2 separate regions of the Homo sapiens genome follow, and region 2 is linked to region 1. Evidence: fine-mapped expression QTL. A gene starts in region 1. The other region holds a variant in brackets. All regions are shown on one strand. Distances are from middle to middle. Region 1 holds the start of LINC02299 (long intergenic non-protein coding RNA 2299). Region 2 has its middle 91 kb from the start of PAPOLA.

The links.
Region 2: its variant is fine-mapped to the expression of LINC02299 in lung (GTEx, PIP 0.97).

Annotation. Positions count from the first base shown.
Region 1 is chr14:96,733,935-96,749,676 of GRCh38, forward strand. LINC02299 (long intergenic non-protein coding RNA 2299) reads left to right here and starts at 7,257. Exons shown (of 4, transcript NR_146552.1): 1 at 7,257-7,277; 2 at 10,227-10,335. RefSeq lists an enhancer at 6,923-7,423 and a silencer at 7,759-7,808.
Region 2 is chr14:96,585,778-96,601,519 of GRCh38, forward strand. No RefSeq gene overlaps it. Among named protein-coding and RNA genes, the nearest start is that of PAPOLA, 91 kb to the left of the region's middle. RefSeq lists a silencer at 6,854-7,033. The variant T/C (reference allele first, on the strand shown) is at 7,736.

The sequences.
Region 1 (15,742 bases):
GGGGACATTTGCATTTTTGCCTCCCAGTTCTTCTTTCTCTTACCCTCAATAAGGGTTTAGAATTGGGAGATTTGATCAGAAATCTGAATGAAGCTGTAGCCTCAGCCATTTGTTCTAAGCCCTTTATGTTTATGAGCCAGAAAAACATGAAACAAATTTGGGGTGAGAGAGGCTAAGAGAGAGTCGCTAACTTTTGAATTTTGTCAAAGTTGAAAATGTAGAAAGAAAAAAAAAACAGCTTCTCACATACTGTCACCATAATTTCATAAACAAAAGGATGTTTAAACAGCAAAGAAGAAGTAGAAATGACATCATCTCATAATAAAACAGCCCTTCCGATGGAAAGGATTTTGCTTTATGAAAAACTCCACATATTATCTTCCTTGTTCTCACTTGGCTGTAGGTTAGTGAAAACTTGTTATAAACCAGCACCACCCGTGAGTCATGGGCTGCTGTGAATAGGAACCTGAAGGCTAAAAATCCTAGAGCCAGGTGTTTACCATACTTGACCTTTACTCCTGACAGCAGCGCTGCACCGCAGACACCGTTAGCTCCATTTTATGTATGGGAGAAGTGGGACTCTACTGGTCTAAGTGATTTTGCTCAAGGGCCACAGATCCAGCTATGGTAGAGAGGAATTGGAACTTCCGTGGCCTTGACTCCAACCCCTGTCTTAGTTTCCACCAAGGACATTGTCTCTCACTCAGCACAGGTGTGTTCTCCATTTGAACAGCCTTGGGCTCTACAAATTCACCGGCACAAGCATTCATGGAGCCATTTCTATGTGCAAGGCTCTGTGCTAGGTTCTGGGGTGACAGCGATACATAAAACACGATTCCTGACCTCAGCGAGCTCGCCCTCCCATTGAAACAACCAACAGATTCACATAAAGCCACTGATGAACGCAGTAGCGATAGTCATCCCAGTCACTGTGAGAGTTCACAAGGTCAGGTCCACGTGGAGTCTGGATGTGTAGACAATGAGCTTTAAAAGGGCCACACTTTCAGGAGACACTCTCACACTGCTGGCCAGCATGCAGACCTTTCCAGAGGGCAATTTAATAATATGTTGTTTTTTAAAATATGTATTTTCTTTGACTGCACAACTCCACTCCTAGGAAATTATTTTAAGGACATAGAGAAGTGTGCAAAGACAAATATACCAAGGATGTTCATTACAATCCTACTTACAACACTGAGACCTGTTTAGAAAATAAATCCTTGCCCTCAAAGAGAAATGTGCTCTATGAGAAAGTATAAGCAGAGATGTCTCTTCTTTTTCCATCAAAGAAGAGACAGATGTGCGGCCTGGGGTCTGACAATGCTGAAACCCGACTTTGTGACCTTGAGCAGTTACTACCTCCTTGGTCCTCAGTTTTGGGCTCAGGAGGTGGGATAAGAGAAGCAATGTCCCCAGAGCCATTGGAAGGTGGGCTGCATCATACAGGACACAGAGAACCGTGGGCTGCATCATATAGGACACAAGGAACCCTTGGCTCAGGTCCTGGGAGAGGGAAGACACCCCGGGGGTGGGAGCTAATTAATACTATTTTAAAAAGTGATTTCTGACCTCAGCTTAAAAACCCTTGGAATTACAGAAACCTGGAGCAGGGCAAGTTGAAGACAGGGATGAGCCAGGGGTGATGGGGAGGAGCTGCTGGTCTGTCCGAGGGGAGCTCCCGGGCTCCTGCCCCTGGGAGCCCCTCCGCTTGCAGGAGGGTGCAAAACCGCAGGTCATTTATGCTCCCCTGGTATTTAGCATGAGAGGAGGAGTAATTGCCCTGGCAGTGTCCTGGCTGAGTTCCAATTTGGGTGATTACATTCTGCCTACTTAAAATTCCCCTCTCTGGTATCCATGGTAGAAGCATTCTTCAAACCCTCTCCTGTTACGGGGAAAAATAAAATAAAATAAAAAGAAAGGAATCAGCCCAGCCTTCTGTATACACATGGTATAGAGGGTTGCTCTGTGCACCCCAGAAGTGGTTTCCTTTAAAAAGGGGGGTGGAGGATCCCCAGTGGAATAAATCCGTCAAACATGTTGAAATTTTCCAGAAAGAAAGATTTTGTTTCAGGAGGGAAGACAGTGTGGGTGGGAGCTCTGCGGCTGAGTATGGAGAACACTTAGGTGAAGAGAGTCTTTTAGGTGAGGCCGCTGTGTCACCTGCTTGGGGTCGCACTGGTGGGCTTGGGGCTCAGGCCTCAGTCCTTTAACCACTCCCCCACCCCCTCACCATAATGCCTCCTGCCTGTTGCATTCTTGATGTTGCTTAATTATAGAATATAAAATTGTTTCTTTTCATTTGGATGCTATTGGGAGTGATGTATGGATAACAGCTTGAGAATTCAAATTATTCTACAGATCAACATGACCCGAGAGAAGAAAAAATGTTTTGACTATTACACTAAACAAACCGGGCTGGATGTCAGAAAGATGCTGGGCTGTGCACATCTCCGCGTGCACGATTTGCACTCGTCCTAAGTGGCTTTATTAATTAAAGCGCACCAGGACTTTGAAACATTTGTACCAAATGTATTTTTTAGACACACACACACACGCACAACAAATGGTTCGGTAAAAGCAGTAAAGTTGGATTTCAGAAAGTAGCCCCCTCCCTTCGAGCTCTTCCCGACTTGCAAGTGATCCTTCAGAAGTCTCAGCTTCCTATTTCCATGGGTCTGAAAGAATCACAATTAACCCCTGATTTACGGGAGGGCTGTAGAGGTATGAAATGTGAGAAACCTCGGCAACAGAGACAGAAACGCAGGAAGACTCGTGTGCAGGGATGATGCGGGGAGAGCCTGTCTTCAATCACAGTGTCTGTGCCGGCGAATTTACGATAGTGTCAATGCACAGCTGAATAAAAAGCCAAAATATCCACTACAGATGAAACCTGTGTATCTCTATATGTATTTGCCCATCTACCCATCCATGTTTCACAAAAGGCAACTGTCCCTCGCATTCCTGTGTTCAACCTCTCCCTATTAGGCAACAATGGCTGCAAGCTCGTTGGTTTTGGTGGATTTGGCGATTCTCATGCCTCTTTTGATGACCAGGTGAGACTGAAATAACACATGGTTAAACTGCAGCTTCTCTCGTCTTAGTCCCCCACCCTTAGACGGACAAACAGCCAAGGTTGCATCTTGCCGCGAGTTTTTGTTCTGCTGATGTTCATGTGAGCAGAAGGAAATCTTTCTACTTGAAAATCCTAATGACTTGGAGGGATGTGTTCATGCACCTGGCTCCTCTGGAGGGATAAACCTAACTGCCAGTGTGTCTTCCACAATGAACCTGCGAGTGCTCCTGTCACTGCAGCTATAATTGCCTAGAAAGATCGACCCTCTGGTGAACAACTGACTCGACTCCATTGCTTAACACTTCGAATGCGTTTCCATCCCAGGCCTGTCCCACATGGTCGGGAAGGGGGTGTTTTGGTGTCAGAACAAGAGAGGGTTTCGGTCAGAGCCCTGGATCTGTGCAGCGAGGCTACCCAGTGCTATTTGCCTGCATATCTACATAAACTAATCCTGGCGAGTGTGATCTTTGGTGGCCCTCAGCTAGGAGGTTCTTACCACAAGTCTGGCTTGGGTTCCATCTGCAAAAAATAAGACACAATAAAAAGGCTGAGACTCAGCAGTAACCCAGAGAACAAAGTGACAGGTTTCAATTTCCTCCAAATTGTACATATATTTTTCCATAATCATATTTTCTAGTATCCAAGCCCTGTTTTAAAAAATTTTTAATGCATGCTTAGACAAATTATTTTAAAAGCTCTGTGAAATATTAGCACCATTTTAGTAGGTATGTCTCAAAACAATATCATACAAAAGAAAAAGAGGAAGAAAATAAAAGGAGATGTTTCCAGTAATGGTCAAAATATACCAATCTGTACACCCCTTTCAGAACTGAATATTAGTTTTCTTGTCCAAACCATGATGTATTAATATCACCACTTTAACAATAGGCTTTTATTTTCTTACAGTGAAGCTGACTGACAAGGGATGAAGAGTGAAAATTACAATTTGAGAACCTCTTTGGTCAGCTATTGGGAAAGAATGAACTCTCCCCTGTGCAAACCACCTCACGATTTTTCAGGAAGCCAGGGCGAGGAACTTGGATTCCAAAGCCTAGAGAAAGATGTGAGCTGCAAAACTTTCTTTTGGTGGGTGAGGAGACTGGCGTGGGGAGAAGCGGTTTCTGCTGGAGGCGTCTCCACTGCAGGGTGGGGGGGCGGTGTTGGGAGGACTTCCACTTGCTGGCGATATTGACTAGAAAACAAGACTCATTTTGTCTATCTTTTCCTGGATAAAGGACTGATAGGCTCCCCCCACTGCAGCTGTTTTGTTCTTCAAATATATTATCACTTTTTAAACGGATGGTAAAGGAAAAAAATGCATTCATTTTTTCAGCCTAAGGAGACTGCAGGAAAAAGCAGTTCTGCTGCTGAGGTACAACGTAGCATAATGTTGTTTTTCAAAACACCACCAGTTCTGCCTTCCCCTTTTAATGGTATTCATTTTCCTTCTTAGAAAAGGGGTTAAAATTAGTAGGCACATTTCATATTAGCGTATTTCATGCAATAAAGCATAAATTATTTAAAATAACACGACCTTTTATCTTGCACCTTTTGAAGGAAGCAAATTAAAAATGTAAATTGGGAGCTAATTAATATGCAAATGTATTCATTCGCAGTTAACAATTAGCAATTAAACCTGCAGTGTCTACAAAGAGCACGGACAAAATTAGTAACTTAATTTATCATTAAAAAATGAAAACGTACACAAAATTTTAATTGACTTTCAAAATATTTCCCCTGCTTTTTTCCTTTCATTTTTTAATACCAAAAAAAAATTTTTTTAATATTATGCCTTACCTCTACAGATGAAATTGGGTACATGCAGTGTTCAGGGGAGTTCATTAAATAGGATTGGAGAAAAGCATGTTAGGAAAAGTTTGCCTTTTACATGAGGTATTAAAAGATGACATTTAAGAGTGTTGACTTGTGTTGCATAGTCGAGTTCAAGAGAGAAATAAATACATAGATTCTCCTGTGTTTGGGAATATAGAGATGGCAGAGATTTGTAGAGATAAGGGGGAGTATATGCGGCTTATGCACATAGATGTGGGACCGGCTGTGTGTGTGTGTGTGTGCGCGCGTGTGTGTGTCTACACCTTCTAGAAGACACACAGCAAACGTACAGGGTCATTTAAATGCTTCTGGTTCAGCTTTGAGAATTCCAGTACAAAACAGTTGCATGGAAAATCAGCAACAAATAGCTTAAGATGTAAATAAGATACTCTCGGTTGATCATGAGACACATTAGCATTCTATGTTTCATCTATCCCTCCTCACTACAACCCAGACACACATATTTTCCACTTTCTGTTTTCCTGTAGAATTTAAAGAGCAAACCTTTTGCATATTTTCCTGAATTTGGGGTTCATTTGCTGCGTCTCCTCACCATCAGCCTAGCTCTGCCTGCAGATGTAGCCTTATATTTTTACACACTCCCTTTCTAATGTCATGCAGCATAGGAAAGAACCCAGCAAACATAGGATCTGTTGCTTGCAACCTTATTTTGGTTATTTAAACAGCACCTGCTGCTCCAGCTCCATTGAGAGCTTTAAGTTTCATTCACAAGTGTTTTCTTTTGGTTTTTCTTGCTTCAGGGCTGACTCGGGGCGGCTGCGCTGCGTTCTCTCCCCTGTGAACTTTGCTCACGTTTTGGACTGGGCAGCATCTCGCGGTCTGCTCGAGCGGGCTGCCCTTCTGCTTAGAGCTGGACAGTGTTCTCGTCTGCTAGAACGGGATTTTATGGTCAACAGGACATTGCCATGTGTCACTGCAACACTTAGAGGGTAGTTTGAACTGGGATTGAAGGTCTGTCTGGCTGCTTTCCCCGGCAGGCCCCAAACTGGCTTGGATGCAATTGAGCCAGCATTTTCCAAGGTACTCTCATTCACAGTCATAAGGGACAAACGCATCTCATGTGAAAAACTCAAAGGCCAAGGAGGCCAGGGCATGAAGTATTAAGTTGATTTTATTCGGTTTCACAGAAGGCAGTTCTGTCTTGTTGACTAGCAACATTGTGACAAATTGTTCTCGATTAAATGCTTATTATGTGTTTATTTAGCTGTTTGCCTGGAACTAGAGAAGAAAAAAAAATGTGTTACAGTGTATGGCAATATTCTATCCTTTCATAATTGTACCAGAGAAATATGGCATTTTCTCTCCTAAATTTGTACTTATTTCGGGCTCTCTCACACTCTCCTGACAAGTCTGATACTCCAGAACTTCCCAACAATAAGAGAGACCAGGGAAAACAAACAAAAAAACTTGGTTTTAATGGAAAATAAGAGAAGAAGCTAAATATAGCTCTTGACTTTCACAGAATTGTGATTCAGATCTGCTAATTTCTATTTGCCTGGGAGAAATTTTAAGAGTCTCATCGCACCCCCCCCCCCCACCGCCCCCCGCCCCATGGCCATCCCCACCTCCCTAGACTGGAGGGCCCGGAAATAATGACTGGGAAGGAGTTTACCTGTCATCTGTGACACACCCGAAAGAAAGGTTTTTCAGCCAGGGACCCAGCTACAATGCCCAGGCTGGGAACTGTGTGGTTCAGAGGTTCATAGAAGGCATTTAGGAACCAGCTTATAAAAATTAATGTTTTCTTCTTTTATAGGAAATATGCACCATTCTATTTCAGTATGGAAAAAATACGGACCTTGTCACTGATCATTTTTCATGGACTATTTATTTAGGTTTTGAGCAGCTCAGAAGCCTTTTTATTCCTTTTGAGCTCCCCTTGGGATGCTGAAGAGAATAAAGATTTCTCCCTTCCAATACCGTGCACACATTTCACTGTGGGAACTGTCACCAAACTAAACAAAAAACTGAGTCCAAGCACCTTCCACCTCGTTGGCCAAAAAAGACCCAAACGGCCCTCATATTTTTATTTTTGCTTGTGCGCCTGCGATATTAAGCAGCTAACAACAATCTGAGAATTAAGTTACCACAATTAGGAATTAGAAGCAGGTGGCATAATAATGGCGCTTTTTTCATTTCATTTATTAGCAAAAAGAGAGAGAGGAGCTTCATTTATTTTCATCAGCGCCTCAGTAAAAGCATAGCAATTTGCAACACAAAAATCATTTCAAGTACCTCAGCCTTGTGCAAACCTTTTTTTTTTTTGTTGTTGTTCCTTTAAAAGCCTTTTAAAGTTCACCACCTCCCCCGCCCAACCCCATTCTGAAAGGACGTGCGTGTGTGTGGAGAGGTGAGTACTGGTGGGATCAGACTATTTCTCCCCCAAAGCAGTTTTGGGGGTTCCATAACCCAGGGAGCGAGGTGTGGGGCATCTCCTGCCCTGCCTGCCTCCGCCTGTCTCTCATTTAGTTTTGCACCGGCTTGTTTCAGTCTTGCAAAGATTTAATGCAGGGGCAACCTCTCTCCAAATAAATAAAGTGAGCAACACCTCTTTGCATGGCACCCTCCCATCAGCCATCCGGGCCAGCGCCTCCAGCACCCCACTGCCCGGCTCCGCGGCACCCCACTGTCCAGCCCCTAGCACCCCACTGCTGGTGCCGACACCCGCAGGCCCTACGCTTTTTGCGTTTCTACCCGCCGCTCCTCGCAGACCTGGCGCGGCGCAGCAACCTTTGCGCGCCCTCTAGCGTCAGCATCGGGGATTACCACGAGCTGGCCCGCACGCCGCCGCCGCCTCCAAGCACCACCCGCCCGCGGGAGAAGCAGCCCGGGCTGCAGCAGAGGCTGGGGGGCGAGGGGGGCGAGGGGCCGAGGGGGTGCCTGGGCTCGTGCATTTACACGAAGTCCCTCCGAGACGGAGGCGGGCGTGGGTGATTTTATTGCAAACTTTGGGGAGCCCCTTCCTTGGCTGCGGCCGCCCGCTGGTGTTGCCCCCGAACCCTGGGCATGGGGCGAGTGGCCCAAGCCCGGACCCTTGGAAGTGGCGCGGCGGGGCTGCCTTTCCTCGGGTGTTCGCGGCTCGGCGCGACCCTCTCTCCCGTCTGCTCCCCGCCGCTCTGCTCGCCCCCTCCCCTCGACCAGGTTCTGGCTTTCTGGCCTGTTCCGGCCTGGGGGACTCCCTTGTCCTGTGCCTCCCCATTCTACTCTCTGTCCACATACCCCTGAGTCTCTCTTTTCTCCCTGTTTGATTTATTTTAGAGCAGCGGATCACAATTTCTGACTTCCACTTTGCTCTGTCTGCCTTTCCCCATCCTACAGCATTCTCGCCGTTTGTCTTTTTTTCTTCCCTGTAACTTTTTCTTCTCTCTCTCTCTCCCCTCCCTACCTGTCTCCCTCCCTCTCCCTCCCTCTCTCTCCCCCTCTCTCTCTCTTTCTCTCTTTTTGAGAGAGTCTCCCTCCAGGCTGGAGTGCAGTGGCGCGATTCCGGCTCTCACTGTCGGGTGCCCGCCACTATGCCCGGCTAATTTTTATATTTTTAGTAGAGACGGGGTTTTTCCATGTTGGCCAGGCTGGTCTGGAACTCCTGGCCTCAACTGATCCGCCCGCCTTGGCCTCCCAAAGTGCTGGGATTACAGGCCTGAGCCACTAGGCCCTGCCTCTTCTCTCCTTTTCTGTTTCTCAGCCTCCAACTTCATATTTCTGTTTATATTCTTTCTGCCCCCTGTTCCCCAGGGAGTTTCACAGAAGAGCCACAGGCCTCTAGCATAGTCATCTAGAATGCCAGCCACCTCTTTTCCGTCCAGCGTCTTGGAATTAGTCTCCACTGGATCTTGCTGCCTGAGCTTCTGGTCTGCAGGGTGACAGGTGCCTTCTGCAGCCCCCTCAGGCCAGGCTTGTTTTTGTTTGTCCTTTGCTTTATAAACACAGACAAATAGCCGTTTATTTGGAATTCACTGTCCTCATTGAAGAGGTGGCATTAGGTGAGTGTAGGAATGGTGATGGGGATGGGATACCAGAGTCCAGAAGGCCGTGGTCACGGAGAATCCTCCACAAGCTCCCAGAGTTTGGACTTTCCAGGACAGCCTTGCATCTTCCCTGCCGATCGGGCAGCCTTGGAACCTGGCACAATTTTATTAAAGATATGTCCAGTTTTAGTGGCCACCAAACTTTTCAACGGTTGTTGGTATTTGAGAGAAGTCTCCATCACCAAAATAATAAAAGGAATTCAGATAAAACAATGAGTTAGTACATGAACCTATGGAGTGAGGAAAGATTACAATAAAATCAAAGGCTGGTGAGGGAGGAGAGAAGACAGGATGTGCAGTGGCATAATCTTGGCTCACTGCAGCCTCAACCTCCTGGGCTCAAGCTATCCTCCCACCTCTGCCTCCCAAAGTGTTGGGACTACAGGTGTGAGCCACCACACCTGAGCTTTGGGGGTATAAATTGGTAAAAAGAAATTTGGCAATCTGTATTAAGAAACTTTAAGATACTCCCACCATTTTTTTTTTTTTTTTTTTTGTGATGGAGTCTCTCTCTGTTGTCCAGGCTGGAGTACAGTGGTGAGGTCTCCACTCACTGCAACATCTGCCTCCTAGGTTCAAGCAATTCTCCTGCCTTAGCCTCCCTAGTAGTTGGGATTACAGGCATGTACCACCACCTCCGGCTAATTTTTATATTTTTAGTAGAGACGGGGTTTGGCCATGTTGGCCAGACTGGTCTTGAACTCCTGGCCTCAGGTGATCTGCCCGCCTTGGCCTCCCAAAGTGCTGGGATTATAGGTGTGAGCCACCGTGCCCAGCCAGATACACATATCTTTTGATCCAGTAATTCCACTGCTGAAAATCTATCCCAAAGAAAGATTCTGAAACGTGGAAAAAGCTGGAGAAGTAAACCAAGCTGCCATACTTGAAAGAGAAATTGGAAATAACCTAGATGTCCAACAAAAGTGGATGACGATTTGAGTAAACCAGGGTCCACCCGCCACTTAAAATTGATGCTGCCGTGGAGAACCATGTTGGTAAGAGTACAGTAACCTGGGAGTGCAGGTGATCGCGTGCTGAGACAAAAAGCAGGATTCAAAGCTGAATCCACAGCATGATCACGAAAAAGATGCTCCACAAAGTAAAAGTTACACAGAAAATACCCGCACAGTGCCTGTCTTTGTATGGTTGGAACTATGGGCAAAGTTTTTCCTCCTTTATCCTTCCACTTCTCTTTTGCCTTCTAATTTTCTTGAAAGAGTGAGATTTTACTTTTAGAATAGAATAAAAGTCACCTTTGTTTTTCCTTTTTAAAGTGGCTGTGAAAGCGACACGGGCTCTGTGGGAAGAGAAGTAAGGAGGACTTCTGGGAAGGAAACGAGGTTCTCGGATGAGCAGGGGCTGTGATATGAAAGTGATCAAGAGGTGAGTGTGTGGGGGGTAGGGACGGAGCATGGGTTTTGGAGAAAAGTGTAGCTAGATTCCAATCCGGCTTCCACTCCATGAGGTGGGGCTGTGCTGGGCTCCACCAAAGGCTTGCTGCTGCCTTAGCTGTTAAACACGGGCTTGGTTTCCTCAGCAACTGACCCGAGCACTGTGTATCTGTGGTCATCACCATGCTCCTGTGTGCTGATGAAACAAGGAACATACACAGTACAGTCTCACTGGAGAGAAAGCTACTTCCCGATGGGTGTCTTAGCCCAAGCCGGATGATCTGTGGGCCAGCACCTGAGCACCTGAGCAGTAGTTGCAGCCCTGGGCTTCACCTGCTCACACAGGGCTGTGTTTGGACAGGTGCATCCCAAAGCGTGCTCCATGGAGCACTGTCCCCAAGATGGTCCAAAATGCCTTGACACATGTATTGAGCACCTACTGTGTACCAGGGCTGTAAATTCCTCAAGGGCAGGGAGCAGATCACCCAGCAAGGGTCTCACTACAGGGCCAGGTGTGGTGGCTCACACCTGTAGTCCCAACACTTTGGGAGGCAGAGGTGGGAGGATGGCTTGAGCCCAGGAGGTCGAGGCTGCAGTGAGCCAAGATTATGCCACTGCACTCCAGCCTGGGTGACAGAGTGAGACCCTGACCAAAAACGAAAGAAAGAAAGAACAAGCTAATGAACGAAAGAAAGAAAGAAGAGAGAGAGAGAGAAAGAAAGAGAAGAGAAGAGAACAGAACAGAACAGAAAAGAAAAGGAAAAAAAGGCTCAGCACAGTAGAGGAGCTCAACATCTTAACTTTCATTCATTCAACCCATCCTTCATTTGAGGCTGATCCTTGGTGAAATTGGGACATTGAGGAAGCTTATTTTAGCTGACCCTTCATCTTCCATGTCACAGCTTCTCTTCTCTTGCTAGAAATTCATCCTGCCTCCCTCCTTCCCTACAGTGCTAGCTAATAGAACATTCAATGAGGATGGAAATGTTCTAAAACGTGTGCTGTCCAATGTGATTGCCACTAGCCACATGTAACCACTGAGCATCTGAAATGTGTCTAGTGCCACCAAACTACTGAATTTTTAATTGTAATACATTTTAATCTAAACCAAATAGCCACATATGGTTAGTGAGTACAGTATTGGACAGCACAGCTCTGTAAAAACCTGTCCTCAGTTTTGCCTCTGGTCTCACTCAAACTCAAATCCATCTTTTGTGTCCACCCTGTGATGAGCCCTTCAGGCCTTGCTCTAGATGTCACTTCAGTGGCATGCTGGAGTCGGCCTCCACTGGCTGGCACCAGCTTGCACCAGCTTGCAGGAGCACATGTTTGCATCTCTTCCCAACCTGCAGTGACTTAACATTGGTAGCTTGACATCAGCAGCTATGGAAGCATTTACACCATGGGAATGGGCAAACACTACACATCAGGTCTGTTTCCCCCCAGAGCCAGTCATTAAATGGCAGCGTTTACACCAGGGGAGTGGGCAGACACTACACATCACGTCTGTTTCCCCCCAGAGCCAGTCATTAAATATTTTCCAGTGTATCCATGAGTCACAGGGCCAGGACTTGCATTCCCCACAGACTGAGTGTCTCCTCCAGCCTTGCTCACCCCCATCCTGGCTCTGCTTTATTCACCTGGCTTCCCAGTGTCAGGTTGGGCTCTTGGACTGGGATCCTGTGGCTCCCAGGGCTTCCAGTTCTCACTGGACTCTCACGCTGCAGTTTTATGTCTGCTTCCTCCATTAGTTTTATAATCTTTTGAGAATAGGTAGCTCCTGTGACCTGTGAAGTGCTGAATCCCCAGGGCCTAGCCCATAGTAGGCAATCAATAAGTAGGTATGGAATAAATAAAGACAGCATGGTGGAAAGAGTGTGCAACTGGGAGCCTGTATCTGGGGCCCTAAGTTGGAATCTTGCTCTGCCTGTTACCAGCTGTGTGACATTGAATCTGGCCCCTCTGTGAGTCAGTGTCCTTGCATGTTACACAGGCATAACAATCCCTTTCCTGTCCACCTCGTGGGGATATTGGAAGGGTCACGTGACATATAGGAGTGCTTTAAAAGACCATGCAAATAAACAAATCGCTTTTGAAAGTCCAGGAAAGCTGACCATGGTGGTGTGCCCCTCTAGTCCCAGCTACTCAGGAGGTGGAGGTGGGAGGATTGCTTAAGGCCAGGAGATTGAGACCAGCCTGGGCAACACAGTGAGACCCCATCTCTAAGAAAAGAAAAGAAAAGAAAAGAGAAGAGAAGAGAAGAGAAGAGAAGAGAAGAGAAGAGAAAAGAAAAGAAAAGAAAAGAAAAGAAGTCCAGGGACATTGTGAATTCAGTTTGGTCTTTTGCCGTCTTGGGTTTGTGAATCACACGGGCGAAAGAGGACCATAGGGAATCTGCATTCTCCCAGTGTGTTAAATGAAATGGGACAAGCACAGCAACCCTCAAGGAAGGGAGAGGAGGTTGCACGTGCAGCTGGCCGGGCAGGTGGCCTTGAAGGGCAGGCTGCAAGCCCCTTCTCTCCCTTAGCAGAAGAATTCAGCCTGGCTGCGCCCGAAGATGGTTCTGTCCATGGCCTTGTACGAGGAAGGAGGGACTGATGGTTCACGCTGAGCTCTTGGATGAGAAATGGTTTCTTTCTGGCATTTAAGAAAGAAGTTCTCTCTTTAAAACCCACAAATGTTTGTTAGTTATTTTTCTCCTTGAGAAATGTTTTCCTGAAATCTGCGACGCCGAGGCTCGTCGTGGGCATTTCGGCTTCTGTGGCCTGTGAAAGTTGACTGTGAACGAGGGCTGCTCCAAAGGGGTTAATTGCATGTAGGCATTGGAAAGTGATTATCTAATTAAACTTTGAAATGGAATGGTAAAAACACTGGGTGACAGACTGTCTGTAGGAGGGTCCCCTGAGGTGTTCTCCATTTATTGCTAATCATCTCTGCCCAGGCTGTGCCTGCCTCCAGCGGAGCCCGCCTCAGACCTCGCTCTCTGGAACTCTGGCTTGGCTCAAAGATTTGTCAAACAGACCTCCCCCTCGGTGTTCCGTGCCCTCCCTGAACTCTGCAGTTGAGCCTGGATGTCTTGGAAGACTTTCGTCACTTGTCTTCAGCTCCGCAATTTCTATTTAAAATTGAAAGGTTATTTCTATTCTTAGAACCATGAAATCAAAGAAATGTGAAGTGTTGGGAGTTAATTCTAGATATTTATGAATATTGCCCAGAATATCTGGGTTGGAGACCTAGCATACCAGCCATAAAGCACATGTATTGTACCCCTTGCATTTAAGTCTGCCGGCGTTTATTCAGTCCTCTGAGCCAGGCCCCTGCTAGACATTTTGGTGATGGAGAGGTGACGCTGATGAGTACCTTGCTGTAAAGCCACCTTCAGGCTGGAGGGGCACTGCTGGGTGAATGCACATTAACGTAGCTCTTTGTAACTTAGAGAGCTCTCCTCATTCCCGCCTGGCCATTTTATAGATGAGAAAACCGAGGCTCAGACTTGCTTAAGAGACTTACCGGAGCCCCTCAAAGCCAGGCGTCCTGACATTAAAAGCCACTGTTGCCTGCTGCCCCGGGGTAAGCAGCTGTCTGTGCTGGATGCCGGGGGGAATGGTGAAGATGGTACGCATTTCTGCGGGAGGCAAAGAGGGAAATTTCATAGAGGAGTTGGCATCTGAGTATGATTTTAACAGCAGGGGCCAGGCCAGGGAAGGCACAGAGAAAGGCAAGTGCACATTGACTTTGGGGACCAGCAAGTTGGCAGGAGTGATGTGAGACCTTTTTTTTCGTATTTTTAAGTTTTGAATGATTCCTTTATTCAGCAATAAATGCTCAGTGAGTACCTATCCTGTGTTGGTGCATGGAGAGAAACATTCTTGCAGAATAGTTGCAATCTTCTGGGCAAGACAGCATGTGCTCAGAGCTGGGTATTGGGAGACAATGCCGAAGAAGGCTGCAGGCATAAAGATGGGAGAACAGATCTGAAAGCAGCTTAAGCTGAAATTCCAGAATTGCTTCCACTTCCTTTTTGGTCTAGAATCAAGGTGCTGGAGTTACTCGATTTCCCCTCTGGAATTGTTTCGTGGAGCAACACTTTAATATTTTGCCCTCAGCAAAGGTTCCACGGTGATGCAAGAGCTGCCCAAGGAACATCACTGCATTTTTTTTTTCTTTTTGTAAAATGACTATTGGGGATATAATTCATTACACTGCTCAATGCCACTTAATGCAAATGTCTCTATGACAAGTGCATTCTAGGGCACTGGGCCAAGAAAAATTGGTTCTCTTGACACACGGGCTGGTCCTACCTCTAAGACAATAAGAACTCCACGCCCAGCCGGCCTTTGCTCCAGACTCCAGCTGTTGGGAAGCTCAGAACAAGATTTCGGGCTTAATTTCTACAGCATTACCTGTAATATTACACCTCCCTGCTTGATCTGATTTTACTCTGTTTTTATTGTAAGATGTTCTTCTGGAAAGAGGGGTGGCGAGAAAGGGGAGTGATGAAATCAATCAATAAATGGTTTGAAACAGCTTCTGGCAGTATTAAATAGTGTTTGCATATATCTCTCCAGCACCATTTCCAAAACTCCGTTCCATGGCACACAAAGGTTCCGTGAGATGTTCGTGGGTATTCCAAAGGACAGGAGCTCTCACAGCTGGTGGCATTGTTCGTCTTAAATTCATTTTAAAGTGTACATTAGAAAAATGCAAAAAATGTATAAAGTGGTTCTAATTATTAAAAGAGGCTGTGTGGTATAACAGTTAGGAGCACCGGCTCAGGAACCAGAATCCCCAGGTTCAACCTGACCTGGAAATTACTTGACCTCTTTGTGACTCAGTTTCTTCATCCATAAAATTACCCTGATTGTGGTATCAGCCTCAGAGAGTTAGAACAGTGCCTGACACATGATACATCTTTGACTACTGGTAGTTTTTATTAGTTTTATTTTATTTTATTTTATTTTATTTTATTTTTTGAGACAAAGTCTCACTCTGTTGCCCAGGCTGGTGTGCAGTGGTGTGATCTCAGCTCACTGCAACCTCCGCCTCCCAGGTTCAAGTGATTCTCCTGCCTCAGCCTCCCTAGTAGTTGGGATCACAGGTGTGCGCCACTGCGCCCAGCTAATTTTTGTATTTTTAGTAGAGACAGGGTTTCACCATGTTGGCCATGCTGGTCGTAGCTTTTATTTCTAAGTGCTGATCTTCCTTTGGGAAAGGGTCTCCTGTACCTGACAACAATAGGAAGTCCCCTGATAAATCACCTTAGGCAGGAAGCATGAGGTTCAGCAGTAGGTTGTATATTTTGCCTCTCACTGCCAGGCTGTGTGCGTTTCTATTTGACAATTGCCGGTCTTTGTTATGCATTTTATCTCATGATTTTAACATTTATTGGTGCAAATATT
Region 2 (15,742 bases), 150 kb before region 1:
AAAGATGCATGCAGAAAAAGCAGCAGCCGCAGCGATACTCCACAAAGATCTTTTTAGTGTCAACTTAAATGTACACAAATAGCGGATGATGATCTCTTTTATTGGACTAACATTTATCCAGTAATATCCACACACTTTTAAAACCATTGAGGCCTCCTCTTCAGGTGTTCATTTGAATAGAAATAGCTGAATGAGTGTTTTTATAATTGATCCCCTGAGAACTGAATGTCTAGTGCTGCATAACCAACATTTTCCCATTGCTGGGTTTTTTTTCCCCCAAATTGCCACTCTGCAAAATTAGGATTTTGTACAGTTTTGATAAGAGAATTAACCTCCCACGTGCCAAACTCCCTGAGTATGAGGGACTCCCAAGGAATCGGATTGTGCGAGGTCAGCTTTGACACCAGATATTTTACGGGGGCTTTGCTGCTGCTCAGTCTGAGAGAGGGAACCGCAGAGATCTGGTGGGAGGTAGACTTGATGGAGGCAGAGGGAGAGGAGGAGGCTGTTGCACACCCTGAAAGGTTCCTGGACCCCAGAATCTTGCGCTTCTGACTTTTCCTTCTGCACTTGCCAGAAACACCCGGACGCTCACTCTGGCTCAATGTGGCGTCTGTGGGTGCTTGGAGCCCTGGACCTTGATGGAAACGTGAAAGATTTTCCTTTCCTCTCCCTCGAAGTGTTTCCCCCAGGGCTGCCAAGTATGTCCTCAGAGTCTTCACTCTAGTTCTTAAGTTACAATCATAATATATGCTTATTGTAGAAAACTTGAAAAATGTGCAGAAGTATAAAGTCGACAATAAATATTACCCCAAATTCCACCACCCAAACACTGTGGTGTTTCCTTCCAGTCTTATTTTATGTGTGTGCATATTAAAAAAAATATATGTATATGATCATACTGCATACATAGAGTTTTGTAACCTGTATTTTTTTCTTTCATTTAATAGTAATATACAAAGCATCTCCCGTGTCTTTAAGCATCATCTGTCAGCATCAATTTAGCGGCTGTGCACACAGCTATCAAATGGCTGTAGTTGAATGAACTTAATTACCCTCTATTGATGGACAGTTGGGTGGGGAGCTTTCTTTTTTGACTGTGTAAAAAGGAAACGTCAGTCTCTGGCCATTTTGTGGGAGACTTATTTAAACCAGGGTAAGACAGTTATTTAGGAAACAGTTTTCCCTTCATGGCCTAGAAGTGAAGGAAAGAGCAGTTTTTTGCAGCAGAAACTGACCAACGTGTCTTCAGTAAGACAAGCCACAGGGCTCAGGGCCAGGGGGAAGCTGGAGCAGCCGGTCTGGCTCCCCTGTCACTCCTAGTTCACGCTGATCCCAGCTCTGAGTCCTGGTGTCAAGGAGGCTGCTTTCAGCTCCAGACAACAGAAACGCTGCTTAACCCGCTGCAAAAGCGAGTACGGGGACTGCATTACCTGATGGGCTTTCCTGAGGTGATGCCACCACCACGAGAGGCCCTGGCTCCTTGGCTCCCTGGCCACCTTCAGCTCCTCCGCATGGCTGCAGCCTGGCTGCCCGCCTCAGTCCCGCGTGCCACCCAGACTCAAGGCAGTCCAAAGGTGGAAATTGGACTCTTTCTTCAAATGGGATTTTTTATAATTTTAATTTTTAATGAGCAAGCAAAATATTGTCCAGAAGCCCAGGCCTTTCCTTCCTCCAACTCCCCGCCCCTGTCGTGGACTAGAATGGGGACACACGCCATGCCCACGCATAAGGCAGGCACTCCCTGGCAAGGAGAGTGAAATCCGTGCCCTCCTGACACTATACTTCGGGTACCTGGGATGTGCCCTCCTGCCCTTCTGAGCTTGGAATCCGGAAGCCCCAGCATCCCGCCTTCTCTAGGCTCTTCTTGGCAGTGGGCATTGACCCCTCTAAGCTGCTGGCTCACCCAGACCCCGAGGCAGCCCACATTAGGGACCAGAATGTTAATTGTCCCAGCCCTATCAGCTGGTGGGGGGACCTGGGGCTGTGATCCAGTGTGAGACTTGAGCCAGCCTCAGTGGTGGTCTTCCAGATCCCACTGAGTGTCCCCAGAGCTTTGGTGACAGCCCTGCTTGGCTGGGTCCTGATAGCAACCTCTGTCGTCTGCTCCCCTGCCATGTTGCCTGCCCTCTCAGTTCTACCCCTGCTACTTCTGAAAATGGCATGTTAATTTTCCCATGGAGAACCCCTCGTCTATAGGCAGCTCATTTGGATAGAGCCCCCACCTTGCGCCTAGTGCCATAGGTGGCCCAGAATGTTGCATGCCCAATCACAGTACCACATGCCTACACCAATCTGATTGGTTGCTGCGGGGTGGGCATGTGATCCAAAACTAGTCCAGTAAGAGTTGCCCTCAGGATGTCTCCTGGGCTTCATGGGATCTTAAGATGAGCTGGTGGGCGCCATCTTACCACCACAGGGAAGCGTCTGCCTGAGAACCAACACAGAGGAAAGCAGAGTTAGAAGACAGAGAGCCCAGGTCCTGAGGATGTCAGTTGAACCACTGGATCCAGCCATGCCTGAAGCAATTTACCTCTGAAATGATCATTTATGGAAGCCAACAATTTTCCTTTGCACATGGACCAGTTTGAGTTGGGTTTTTGTTGCAACTCAAAAGAGACCTGACTGAAATACCTATTCAATAGGCTACTCTTCCAAAACCAGAATCCCTTTGTCATGCCTATAACCACCAACACTGTCCACATACTCCAGCCATTGTGCCCGTTATGCCAGGTTGGATCCACCCCCCGTGCTGTCCTTCTATTTCTGATGTCAAGGCAGGTCAGGCCCCAATGACCCTGACTTTGCCGCTTTCTTTGGGTGCCGAAGGCTGAACAGCTGGCCACTCCTCCTGGAGCCACTTCCTGCAGTCCACAGAGCTTCTGTGCAGAGCTGTTTCCTGAATGCCCAATGAATGGATCTGGTGACCTCTTTTGAGAAGTCAGGCAGAAACAGGAACGGTATCTTCCCCTCCCTCTCTGCATCGACACCTCCATTTTGCCCAGGCGTTCACAATTCCAGGGGTAGTTTCCTGATAATTCAGCTGAAAATTTCCCCGGCTCAGTTCTGTTTCCCTGAGTTGCCCCCCTGGGCTTTTCTCTAACAACTCGGCTCCTTCCTGAGGCCGTGAATGGGGCGCATCTCTGCCCACGTCACTGTTCAGCCAAGGTCGGCACATTTCCTGTGTTCATTCTTCTTCATAAATCACATCTCCAGCCTGCTAATCGCCGTGGACGCATTTCGAGGGATGCTTTGCAATTTTCACTGGCTCTGGTGTTGAGAGGTCCCCTGGCTGCTTCTAGGCAAGCCAAGGGCTTTCCCTCTAAAAAGCCGTGTGTCCCACATCCAAGTGCATACGCGGGTTGAGAGGGAAGGAAGTGGATGAAGCAGGCCTGGAGGAAGATGCTGAGGGCCCGGGACCTGCCCCCGGGAGGCAGCTACTTCTCAGGCCAGCCAGCTGTCTCCATGTGGGAACCAGGCCCAGCATTTGCAGAGGTTATAATTTCTCAAGGGAAGCTGCAAATCTGTGCTTTTATGTGTAATTTCCCACTTAACAAAAAATGCCAGCAACAAAATAAAAATTGAAACGCCGTGGAGACCAAAATGGTCTCTCACACCACCAGACTGTGACTTCTGTCCTGGTAGATTAATAAAGTGACAGGGTGTTAGGCCACTTAGAGCAGGGTGGCCTAGCGAACAAACACAAGGCTGGGAACCAGAACCCATAGGCCTGGATCTGGTCCTAGCCTGGACACTGCGTGATCTTGGGCAAATAAAGAACTGAGTCTCTAAAAATTCCTGTTGTCCACAGTCATCTTCTTAACCCTTACAAGAATCTCATAAGGTGGAGCTCATTATTCCTATCTTGCAGAAGTGAAAACCCAGCTCAGAAGGCAGCTGCAAGAGGGCTGTTGGTTCCCACAGGCCAGCTTGCAGCTCTGTTTCTGGGGTGTTGGGGAGACTACTGTCTGGGCGAGCAAGAGCTGGATCTGTCTTCAGCAGCTTGAGCCGGTTGCAGAGTCCAGCATTCTTCAGGGTCACAGGTGGCTTTTCCTCCTCTGGATCTGAGATTTTCTCTCTGCTTTCCCTGCCCTCCCCTCTCTATGCTCAGCATATTTTATTTCTGTAGCTCCATATTCTTGCCATGTCGCTGGTTCTGGGTGATGTTTCAAACACTGTTGGCACTGGGTTAGAAATGTCATTATCTAACTCAGAAAAGCTCCAAGAGGAATGTTGTGTATACGCATCTTCTCCCCATGAGCTTGTCTCTGCCTTGTGATGAGAACTATGAGGGCGTAGTCTTTGTTGCTTTCCAATCTTCGATGCTCTTTCCTTCACCTAAGACGCTGCTTTCTGAAAAGAGAGAGATTCCAGAGCTCAGCCATTTAGATCCATGAGTTCTCGGCACTGGTTCTTCTTCCATTTTTGTTTTGATAATAGTGCTTAGTAGTGATAACAGTGATACACTGGAGTGGCCCCTTGCTTGCCCAAGGCCGCAGGCTCTGAGGAGATCGCCACAATTTGTAAGAAGCTTTGAGCTTTTATACTGTTGCATAAAACAGAAAAGGGCAAGCTGTGTGTATGCTCCCATTTTACAGATGGGAAAACAGAGGTCATGCCTGGTTAAATAACTTGCTCAGTAAACCCACCTAGCCAAGTAATAAGTAAAACTCATTTGGCCCAAATGTTTGATCTTAAGGTCTACAGTAGTGGCCTCCCCCTCCCCCGCTTAACCTCGCCCCCACTTGCCTTCGTTGGGGCATATTCACTCATTTGGGTTCAGAAGCAGAACTGACATTCTCCTAGACATTGTCATCTGGTGCTTGCTCTTTGTTCTGTCTCTGCATGGTCTCTTCTTTGGGAAAGGTCCTCCAACTACTGAAATATGAAACCAGGAGTGGGCCAGGGGAGGGGAGACGCGTGTCTTGTGCTAGGGCTGGATCTGACTCGCTGTGAGACTTTGGGAGTTTTTCCTCACTCTGGGCTTTGGTTCTTTCTTCTCCAAAGGGTGTGGGGGAAAGGAGAAGGGCTAGCCCGGGCTCCAGGAGGCAAATTGGTCACATATAGGCAATTGGTTCACAGCTACATTTGAATTGGTTGCCAACCTTTAGAAACCAGGAAATGTCAGGTCAAGAGCTAGCTCACCACCTTTCTTGAAGAAGAATATGTGGCCCCTTCACACCATTAGGCTGGAGGGAACATTTCCACTTGTCACCGTCCCTACCTGTCACTCCTCTCAGTGACACTGCCTGCCTGGCCCTGCAGGCCCTGGGTGTGGGACTCCTAGCTCAGTGGCTTTCAAGGACCCAGCATCCAGTCCCAGGGGTCTCATTCCCTCTGAGGTGGGCACCCCTATAATCCTCATTTTCAGATGAGGAAACAGAGTCACTTGCAGTTTGAGTGACTTGCCAAAGGTCACACAGCTGGTCAGCAGCAGAGACAAGACTCCCCCTAGGCTTGTAGACTGTGGGGTCGGTTCTCAGTTGCTGGAAAACAGATCTTGGGATTGAGTTCTTCCAGCAACACAGGTGTGCTTCAGCTTAAGAAGTTTTGAGAAAACTTGATTTATTTTTATTGTTATTATGGAAACTTTAAACATGTGCTAAGAGTAGACAGACTCATGTGATGAACTCATGTGCTCATCACCCATTTCCAACAATTTTTATGGCCAGTTTTGCTTAATCTGTGCACCCGCACCCCATTATTTAAAAACAAATGGGCACCAGACATCGTATCCTTTCATTTGGGAAGATTGTAGTGTGTCTCTCTAAAGGGAGAGGGTTCTTTTTCAAAGTATAACTGTAATATTACTGTATTGTCACACTCTCCCCAATAATAGAAAATCCTTAATTATGCAGGGCAATTTCAGTGTGAACTTACACCGCTGATATGTCTAGAAAGGATGGCCATCATGCTTGCTTTCAGAACGAGCCAGCAGCACCCCAGCTTTGGAATCTGAAGACTTGGGTTTCAGTCTTGGCTTCCTTATTTTATTTTTATTTTATTTTATTTTATTTTATTTTATTTTATTTTATTTATTTTATTTATTTTAATTTTTTGGAGACCGAGTCTCACTCTGTCTCTCAGGCTGGAGCGCAGTGGCGCGATCCCAGGTCACTGCAATCTCTGCTTCCTGGGTTCAAGCAATTCTTCTGCCTCAGCCTCCCGAGTAGCAGGGATTACAGGCGCCCGCTACCACACCCCGCTAATTTTGTATATTTAGTAGAGACGGGGTTTCACCATGTTGGCCAGGCTGATCTCGAACTCCCTACCTCTGGTGATCCACCCGCCTTGGCCTCCCAAAGTGCTGGGATTACAGTCGTGAGCTACCGCGCCTGGCCAGCTTCCTTACTTTCTAGCTGTGGGACCTCAGGCTGGCCACTAGATCTCTGAGCCTCAGTTTCCTTATCTGGAAAATGGGAAGAATCCTAAAATTTATCCATCTCAAAAGGCTCATGTGACAGTCAAGTGAGAAGGCGTACATGCAAGGTATCCTGTCAAATTACACAAAGTCGTGATTTTAATGGAGGAAAGCAACATAAGTACTGGGTGGTGGAGAAATACTTTTGGGTCTCATCTTGCTGAGACTAGGTAGGAAGCAGAATAAGAATAGCCCTTCCTAGGCGCCCACCGGAATGCTCAGCGCTGCCGCACAGAGAGTCCGCATCCGTGCCTGCCACCGGCCTAAGTTATACCCGGAGCTACGACGACTTATGAGATGGGCGACTCTAGGACCCTCATTTTCCAGACGAGAAAACGGAGGCACCTGCAGGTTCAGTGACTTGCCCAAGGTCACGCACCTGGTCAGCGGCAGAGACAGGACTCCCCCCGCCCGGGCCCGCGGATTGCCGGGTCGGTTCTCAGTCACCGCACAGGTGCCCTGGAGAGTGCGACCACCCCCTGCCCTCCGCCCCGCGCCGGCCCTCGGCTCAGTGCCCCGCCCTTCCTGGAGCACGGCCTGCGCATGCGCGCGCCCCAGGGCCCAGCCCTGTTCCTGCTCCGGCTCCTGCGGGGATGGATGCTTCACGCAGTAAGCGAGTAAGCGAGCCCTGGAGACCGGGGCCCTGGGTGTGCGGTCGGCTCAGTGCCACGCGGTGAGATAGGCATGGTTATCAACCCACGCCAAGGCGGTTGTGTACCTGGCATAGAAAACACTGCTGTTGAATGTTGTTTCCATAGTCATTCGCCAGCGTCCACTGATGAGAGGTGCCACCACGGACACCCGGCCTTGCTCCGTCGAAGCTTTGGTCCATTAGGACCAAAGTCAGGCCCCAGCGGGCCTCCCTGCCATTCCTGGACGGCCTCGCGTCCTCCCAGAGCCTGACCTTCTCTTATCTCTGCAGCCTAAGTCGCGGAAGCGTAGACACCCGGCTTTTCCCGCGTGCTCTATCGGGCTCCCCTGGACACGGAGGGTGGAGCAGAAAGAGCAGAGGGGCCGGTGGGAGCCATGGGGAGTCCGCCTAGCTCCAGAGGTAAGGGCGAGAATGGCTTCATCCTCCCCCCTTCATCCTCCAGGCCAGCCTCGGACCCAGCAGCATCCTGCCCAGGGGGCACCCCCACCTCCCTGGATGCCAGCCAGAGCTGGAGAATATTCACGACCCAGAGGAGGGCCTGGACTCCAGAGAAGGGACCCCCTTTCACAGTGCACTCTGTGTCTGTGTGGATCTGATTTCATGTCTAGTGACCACTATTTTTATCCTCCCAATTCCTAGGACACCTTACCTGGATCCGCCTT[T/C]GTAGCCTCCTCCTGGCTCTGGGGGCTGTCCTGTGGGGTCCGAGTAGCTGAAAGACAGCCCCTCCATGTGAGGAAGCCCCCAACTGGGGAAAACCCCCTCGTGGACTCATTCCTGTCCCTGCATGTGGCCTTCACCTGACTGTCTGCATTGAGGCATCCTCTGCCAAGAGCAATTTCAAAGTGGCAGGTCTTGGGAGATGGGGTGCTGTATTTGGGAGTAGGGGCGGGGAAGGGTTGAGGTGCCCTGGGAAAACTGGAGGAAGACATTTTTAATGCTCTTATGAGGCTGGGAGCAGAGGCCAAGAGGGGCAGAGCAGAGCAGGGGTGAGGAGAATGAGGCACTGGCCTGGGCACAGAATTGAAGGGGCACCAAAAATCGCAATCATCAAGGGAAATCGTATTTTAATGCCATATTTTAAAACTCAAAATTAACAAAAGGAATCCATGATGAACGAACTATCAACATTTCAAGTAAAGACAGGATCTGTTTCATGGATATCTCCTTTTGCCTCAGGGTCCAATATGGAACGGCATAGTTGATTCTGTCTTTATTTAAAATTTTTGGCGGCGCGCGGTGGCTCAAGCCTGTAATCCCAGCACTTTGGGAGGCCGAGGCGGGTGGATCACGAGGTCAGGAGATCGAGACCATCCTGGCTAACACGGTGAAACGCCGTCTGTACTAAAAGTACAAAAAAATTAGCCGGACGTGGTGGCGGGAGCCTGTAGTCCCAGCTACTCCGGAGGCTGAGGCAGGAGAATGGTGTGAACCCGGGAGGTGGAGCTTGCAGTGAGCCGAGATGGCGCCACTGCACTCCAGCCTGGGTGACAGAGCGAGACTCCATCTCAAAAAAAAATGATAATAAATAAAATAAAATTTTGATTTTTTGTTCATCGTGGATTTTTTTCCCCATTACTTTTTGCATTAACATTATTTATCTTGAATTCTGGCTGCTCTTAAATTCTGCACCCAAGGCAAGTGGGCTTCACTCTAGTCCCATTCCGGGAGGACGGTGGATTCGTGAGCATTCGGGAGACCACCACAGGACCCTTAAGCTGCTTCATTGCGCAGTGGGATCCCCTGTAACCCCAGACTTCAGTAATAATCCCACACAGAAAGGTCTTACGTGAGTGTTTTCTTGTGAAAATTAAAGGAAAGTGCTGCTTTCAACATCTGCCACATTTGCAAGAAGAGCAAAGGTGGCCCATTTGAGACCACCCTTGAACTAAACCATCCAGTGAGCCCCTGAGGTCGGGACAGAAGTGGCCATGACCTTCCTCAAGCAGGGACTGTGGTGGAGCCCACCTTATCCAGCACAAGGTGGCCTGCTGACTTCTGGTGACAGTGATGCCAACTTCCTGGCTGTCCAAGGTTCAAATCTTGGTCTTAATCCTCCTGGCCTTCTCTCATCAATGGCCAGAGCCACCCTAGCTAACAAGGTGCCCAGGGACTCCGGGGTGGGAGAAGTCCAGCTTCTTCTTAGCTGAGGACATTTGAGTCTCGTCACAGCCCCCAAAAGAATACTCATTTTTGTAGCTGGAGGGCCTGGCCTCTGTCTATCTTTGCTTTTCCAGAAGCTGACAAGTACCTGCCGGAAAAACTGCCTCTTTTCCCTCCCGTGCTTGGAGCAGGCATTGCTGACAGATCACAGCTGCTGGGCCCAAAGGTCCCTTTGCACGCGGGACTTCAGGAAGTTGCTGCTGACCTATGGGAGTTGGTGCAGAAAGATGAAATTTGTTATCCTTGGCTGTATCAACTCTCTCTCCTCTCCTTGGTGGTGATAGTTTTGTTCTTAAAAGCCTCTTGTGAGAGAATTTGTGGATGAAGAACCTGTAAGATCACAAGTGAAACAATTTATTGATGTCAATAGATTTATACACGTTCATTAAGAATCAAAACTAAACTAAAACATCAGTCTGACTAAAGAGACCACCACAGATATTTCATATGCTGTACATCAGTAACAAAGGGTACCAAATAGTTAATATCCATGTACTAGTCACATGAGAAATGTTTTAGGGTCATTGACCAGTGTAGTCAGTACAGTGGTCCCATGGTATTTGTGGGGGATTGGTTCCAGGAATCTCTTGGACACCAACTCCGTGGATGATCAGACAATATAAAATGTGGGTCAGGTGCGGTGGCTCATACCTGTAATCCCAGCATTTTGCGAGAATCACTTGAGGCCAGTTCAAGATCAGCCTGTGCAACATAGCAAGACTCCACCTCTAAAAAAAAAAAAAAAAAAAAAAATTAGCCCAGTGCAGCGGTGTGCACCTGTAGTCCCAGCTTCTCATGAGGTTGAGGTGAAAAGATCACTTGGGCCCAGGAGTTTGAGGCTGCAGTGAGCTGTGACTGCCACTGCACTCCAGCCTGAGTGACAAAGCAAGTCCCTGTCTCTTAAAAAATAAAATAAAATAATAGCATTTGAATGTAACCTACACACATCTCCCATATACTTTAAATCATCTGTAGATTGCTTATAATACCTAATACACTGTAAATGCTATGTAAATAGTTGTTATTCTGTGTAGTTTTTAAAAACGTGTATTTCTTATTGTATTTTTTTGTTTGTTTTTTGTTGTTTTTGGAGACAAGGAGACAAGGTCTCACTCTATCACCCAGGCTGGAGTGCAGTGGCACCATCTCGGCTCACTGCAGCCTTGACATCCTGGGCCCAAGCGATCCTTCTACTTCAACCTCCCAAGTAGCTGGGAATACAGGCGCTTGTCATCATGCCTGACTAATTTTTGTATTTTTGTAGAGATAGGGTTTCACCATGTTGCCCAGGCTGGTCTTGAACTCCTGGGCTCAAGTAATCCTCCTGCCTCAGCCTCCCAAACTGCTGAAATTACAGATGTGAGCCACCACGCCCGGCCATTATTGTTGTATTTTTATTTTTTTTCAAACATTTTTGACTTGCGGTTGGTTGAATCTGTGCGTGTGGGAAGCATAGATACTGAGGACTGTAGTTTCACCAAAATGCTTCCAGTCACTGTGCCTTCCACCAGCTCCCTCACACATCTGGGTGCATGACGTGTCGTGGGAAGAGTGTGGCCTCCAGGGCCCACCAACCTAAGCTTCAATTCCAACTCCACTCCTGCGGACCAGTTACTTCCTTGAGGTCCATTCTTCTCATTTGCAAAATGGGAGAACAACTTTTCCTCAGGTTGCTGGGAAGATTAAACAAGATCGTGATTCAGAATGCTTAGCATGTATGCTCATGACACACTTAAAGAATGCCGGCTACCCTTTCTGTTCCCCTTGCCACACTTACTCCCTCGCTACCTTCTCTGTGGGGGTCCTTCTTCCGAAAGTCAATATATTTCTGATTTAAGACTTGGCCTCTCTGAGCCCCACCATGGTGACTCTTGATTTGAATGTAGATATCCCACATCTCAATGTAGATGAAAAGGTGGAGCTGAAAATTTATACCAGAGTCAGATCCAGGTTTTAGGGGTCCTGGAACCTATACAATTTGGGGCGCCTTCTTACAGAGCTATAAATTCTAAATTCAGCTCAGGGTCTTGGAAGGTACCTGGGCAAGTGAGGGGGCCTGGAGCTTAAGTTTCACTCGCTTCTCGGCAAATCCCCTTTGATCCACCCACGTTAGAATTTCACATGCAGTAGGCCGGGCACGGTGGCTCACACCTGTAATCCCAGCACTTTGGGAGGCTGAGGTGGGCAGCTCACTTGAGGTCAGGAGTTTGAGACCAACCTGGCCAATACAGTGAAACCCCGTCTCTACTAAATTACAAAAATTAGTCAGGCGTGGTGGCGGGTGCCTGTAATCCCAGCTACTCAGGAGCCTGAGGCAGGAGAATGGCTTGAACCTGGGAGGCAGAAGTAGCAGTAAGCCAAGATCATGCCACTGTACTCCAGCCTGGGTGACAGAGTGAGACCTTGTCTCCTTGTCTCCAAAAACAACAACAAACAAACAAAAAATACAACAATAAGAAATACACATTTTAAAAAACTATACAGAATAACAACTATTTACATATTTTAAGACTGTGTCTTAAAAAATTCCACACAAGTGAGCTGGGGCTTAGGGACCTTTCTGTTTGTGTGCCTCAGAGCCTAGACGCAATGCTTTCCTCCACAAAGACCTCCCTGGGGGCTTTCTGGAAGTCCCAAGAGCAGAGCCTGGGGAAGGGAGACCCATAGGGAGGGCAATGCCCTGACCCCCTCACCCATGCCCAAGTGCGTCAGTTCAGGACGAGAGTGGGGAAAGCCCTGTACTTTGCCAAGGCCGCTCTTGAAACCCAGCCGACATCCCATCAGAAGGCTCCCTTACATGTCCTCTGCTGTGGGACTGAGATGGCACCCTGGCCCCTCCCCTGGAGCCAGAAGGCAATGGAGCAGGGGTCCATGGAGCCTGCCAGGCCCACCCGAGCATGTTCAGCTCAGAGATGCAGCTCCCAGCTCCAGGCCTGGGCCCCAACCCACCTCTGCCTCCTTCTCTTTCTGGTCCTCCTCCCCTCTTCTCCTTCCTCCTCTCTTCCCCCTCCTCCATCTTCCCCCTTCTCCTCCCTCCTCCCCTCTTCTCCTGCCCCTCTAGGTTCCTTCCCCCTCCTCTTCCCCCTTCTCCCTCTTCCTCCTCCTCTCCTCTTCCCCCTCCTCTCCTCTCCCCCTCCTCTCCCTTTCTCCTGCCCCTCTAGGTTCCTTCCCCCTCCTCTTCCCCATTGTCCCTCTTCCTTCTCCTCTCCTCTTCCCCTTCCTCTCCTCTCCCCCCTCCTCTCCTCTCCCCCTCCTCTGCTCTGCCCCTCCTCTCCCTTTCTCCTGCCCCTCTAGGTTCCTTCCCCCTCCTATTCCCCCATCTCCCTCCTCCTCCCTCCCTCCTCCTCCCTCCGTCTTCCTCCTCCTCCTCCCTTCCTCCCCTCCTCTCCCCTTCTCCTGCCCCTCTAGGTTTCTTCCTCCTCCTCCCCACCTCCTTCTCTACCTCCTCCCCTTCCCTCTCTCCAGCCTCCCCGGGGTAGATGGGCTCTGGAGACCTCTTCTCTCTCTAGAGGTGTCTGCTAGAGTCTACAGGACCCGCCACCCACAGCCCCTCATGCTAACACAGGCCCAGCTGAGGCATTCTGGTTATGACGGAGCTGTCCAGTTGCCTGGAAAGGGCTGACAGCAGACACAGCCCTGGTCGGGCAGAGCAAGTCCCCGGCCAGCTGGTGAGGGGATGGGCCCGAGCCAGGTAATTATTGCCTGGTGCAGAGGTCGAAAGCCGCAGAGCGGCTGATGTACTAACGAAACACAAATGGGACATCTGTGTTCAGGAGTTCAGCAAACCATGGAAAACCCAGCTTTGCCAAGAGTTTATCTACTACTGAGATCAGGGACACTCCTGCAGCTAAGGGAGCAGTGCGCACACCAGAAGCCGTTTCCCCTGCTGCTCCACTTTCCCCTGCTGCTCCGCACACCCTTTATCTAGGGGCATGGCAACTTTTTCTTCCCTGGGAAATTGTTGGAGCTGGAAGTGTGTTCACCTGTGGAGCGCCCTTTCCTGGTAGTTTGGAAAGCCCTGATGCCAGGCCTTTGGATGCGCTCCTGGGGAGGGATGGTGGTGAGGGTGTGTTTGCCTCCCCACAGGTCTGGATCCGCTTGGTCCAAGCTTACCACTTGGTCTGAGCAGATTGGGGCCTTTGCCTTCCCAAGCAGCACCAACACAGGGCATGTGGACACCTCTGAAGGCAGAGCCAAGAGGGCCCCAGGAAGGGGCCGAGTCCACACGTTTACCAAGCAGATTGTCAGAAAGAGGAGTGAGGGGGTGCCTAGAAACTGGGGTTCTCTCAGACCTGCATGCACGGCCAGCGCAACCTCTACACGTCACATGCCTGCTGGGCCCCAGGTCACACCTGTAAAATGAGAGCGTGGCTGAGGGCCGTGTGTTCATTCGGACTCAAGCAACAGAAACCGACTCTGTCTTATCTGACAAAAACAAAAAAAGAGTCTCCTGGCAGGAAGTGAGGGTGTTTTGTGGACTACAGGAGGCACTGGCCCAGGAAGAATAGGTAGCCGTGGGGACTGGGGCAGCAGGAGGCGGTGGCCGTCTTCTGGGGGCCCAGCCCTTACAGGACTCAACTTCAGTGCCCACTGCCCTGTGTCTTGGTACCACCAGGTGTCAATTCCCAAACTCTGGTGGGCAGACTCTTTGGCCCATCCACTTGGGTGTCTTTCCAGTGCATGGGTGGGGGATACTCAGGACCTGGACTGCACAGGGTGCTACTTCTGGAAGAGGGGGAAATTGCAGAGAGCCAGCCAACCATGACATGAATACTGCAGCATCGTGACGTGCAACTACAAATGGGTGTGCCTATCTCATTGGGGTCCAAAGCCAGGACAGCCAAGGCCCTAGCCTGGCTCTGCACTCCTGAATCTGTGCCTCACTCGCAGCCCCCACTTACCCTGGGGCCATGCTTGAGCTGGGGACCAATGCTTTAGGAAGCACACTGCAACTGCAGTCCACATTTGCCCTCAGGAGGCTGCTGCTTCTATAACCACGATGGCTAACGCATGCTGGGGGCCCAACCCTAGCACCTCCCAGATTGTTTGCTAGGTGCCAATTACGGGACTGGGGTCTTAGCTGACAGTTGCTGTGGCTCATGGCAGTGGCATCAGGACCCACCTACCCCTCCCCCCGCTCTGCCAGCTAATGGTGGCCAAGTAGGGATGGGGGTTGGCTTTCCTGAGGCTGAGGCTGAGTCTGGGCTGTGTGGCCCTCCCCAGGCAGCAGGGCGTGAGAGTCAAGCCATGCTGAAACTGCCCCATGAGCTGAGGCTGTACTTCCAGCAGGGCCTGTGCAAGTGCTGGTCTTAGAGGGGCCAGAGTGTGGTCCACAGTCAGGAACGTGAGGCCAAGAGATGGATCTTGAGAGATCCAACTCTTTGTTGAGAGGTGGATCACAGCAGAAGGAGATCAGGAGTGAGGGGTGGGTTGGTAGGACAGCTGACTCACCCTCCTGGGGCCAGTGACCTCCTTCCTCCACTCCTTTCCCAGTTGGTTGTAATCCCTAGGCTGTGTAGGAGGATTCATGCGATCATCTCAGGCATTTTCCAAGAAAGGAATTTTGCCAGGCCATGCGTTTGACTGGAGGCCTGGGGTCACAGGCAATGAGGCCACCAAAGTCTGCTTCCGCCTGAGGGGTTGGGAACCAGTGGCTCTTGGGTGTGAAGCACCAAGGACAAGACTGTTCATTTTTCCTGATCAAGCTTTTACCAATGGTATTCCTATTTTCTCAGCATCATTAGGAAATGCTAACAAGTAAGAATGCCTTGCAAGTAAATGAGAAAATTCACCTGCAAAGCTATTTCATAAGCAGGTGTGGCAGACATTCTTGTTGCTCACTCCAAATTCACTCCCCCACTTCCCTGCTGGCGGAGTCTGATTTTCTCAGGCTCCACCCTCTTCCACCTGGCTGGGCTTCAGGTAAGTTGTGTTTGGTCTATGGTTCCCATTCCCCCGACATTGAAGCTGGTCTGAGGTTGGCCACCTCAGGGTCTTTTGTGTGTGGTCATGAAAATCCTCAGTGCTTAAATCTCTTTTTTTCTTTTTCCATAGGTTATTGGGGTATAGGTGGTGTTTGGTTACATAAGTCAGTTCTTTAGTGGTGATTTGTGAGATTTTGGTGCACCCATCACCCGAGCAGTATACACTGCACCCTATTTGCAGTCTTTTGTCTCTTACCCCCTTCCACCCTTCCCCCCAAGTCCCCAAAGTCCATTGTATCATTCTTATGCCTTTGCATCCTTATAGCTTAGCTCCCACATATCAGTGAGAATATACAATGTTTGGTTTTCCATTCCTGAGTGACTTCACTTAGAAGAATAGTCTCCAATCTCACCCAGGTCACCGCGAATGCCGTTACTTCATTCCTTTTTATGGCTGAGTAGTATTCCATCATATATATCTATATCACAGTTTCTTTATCCACTCGTTGATTGATGAGCATTTGGGTTGGTTCCACGATTTTGCAATTGTGGATTGTGCTGCTATAAACATGCGTGTGCAAGTAT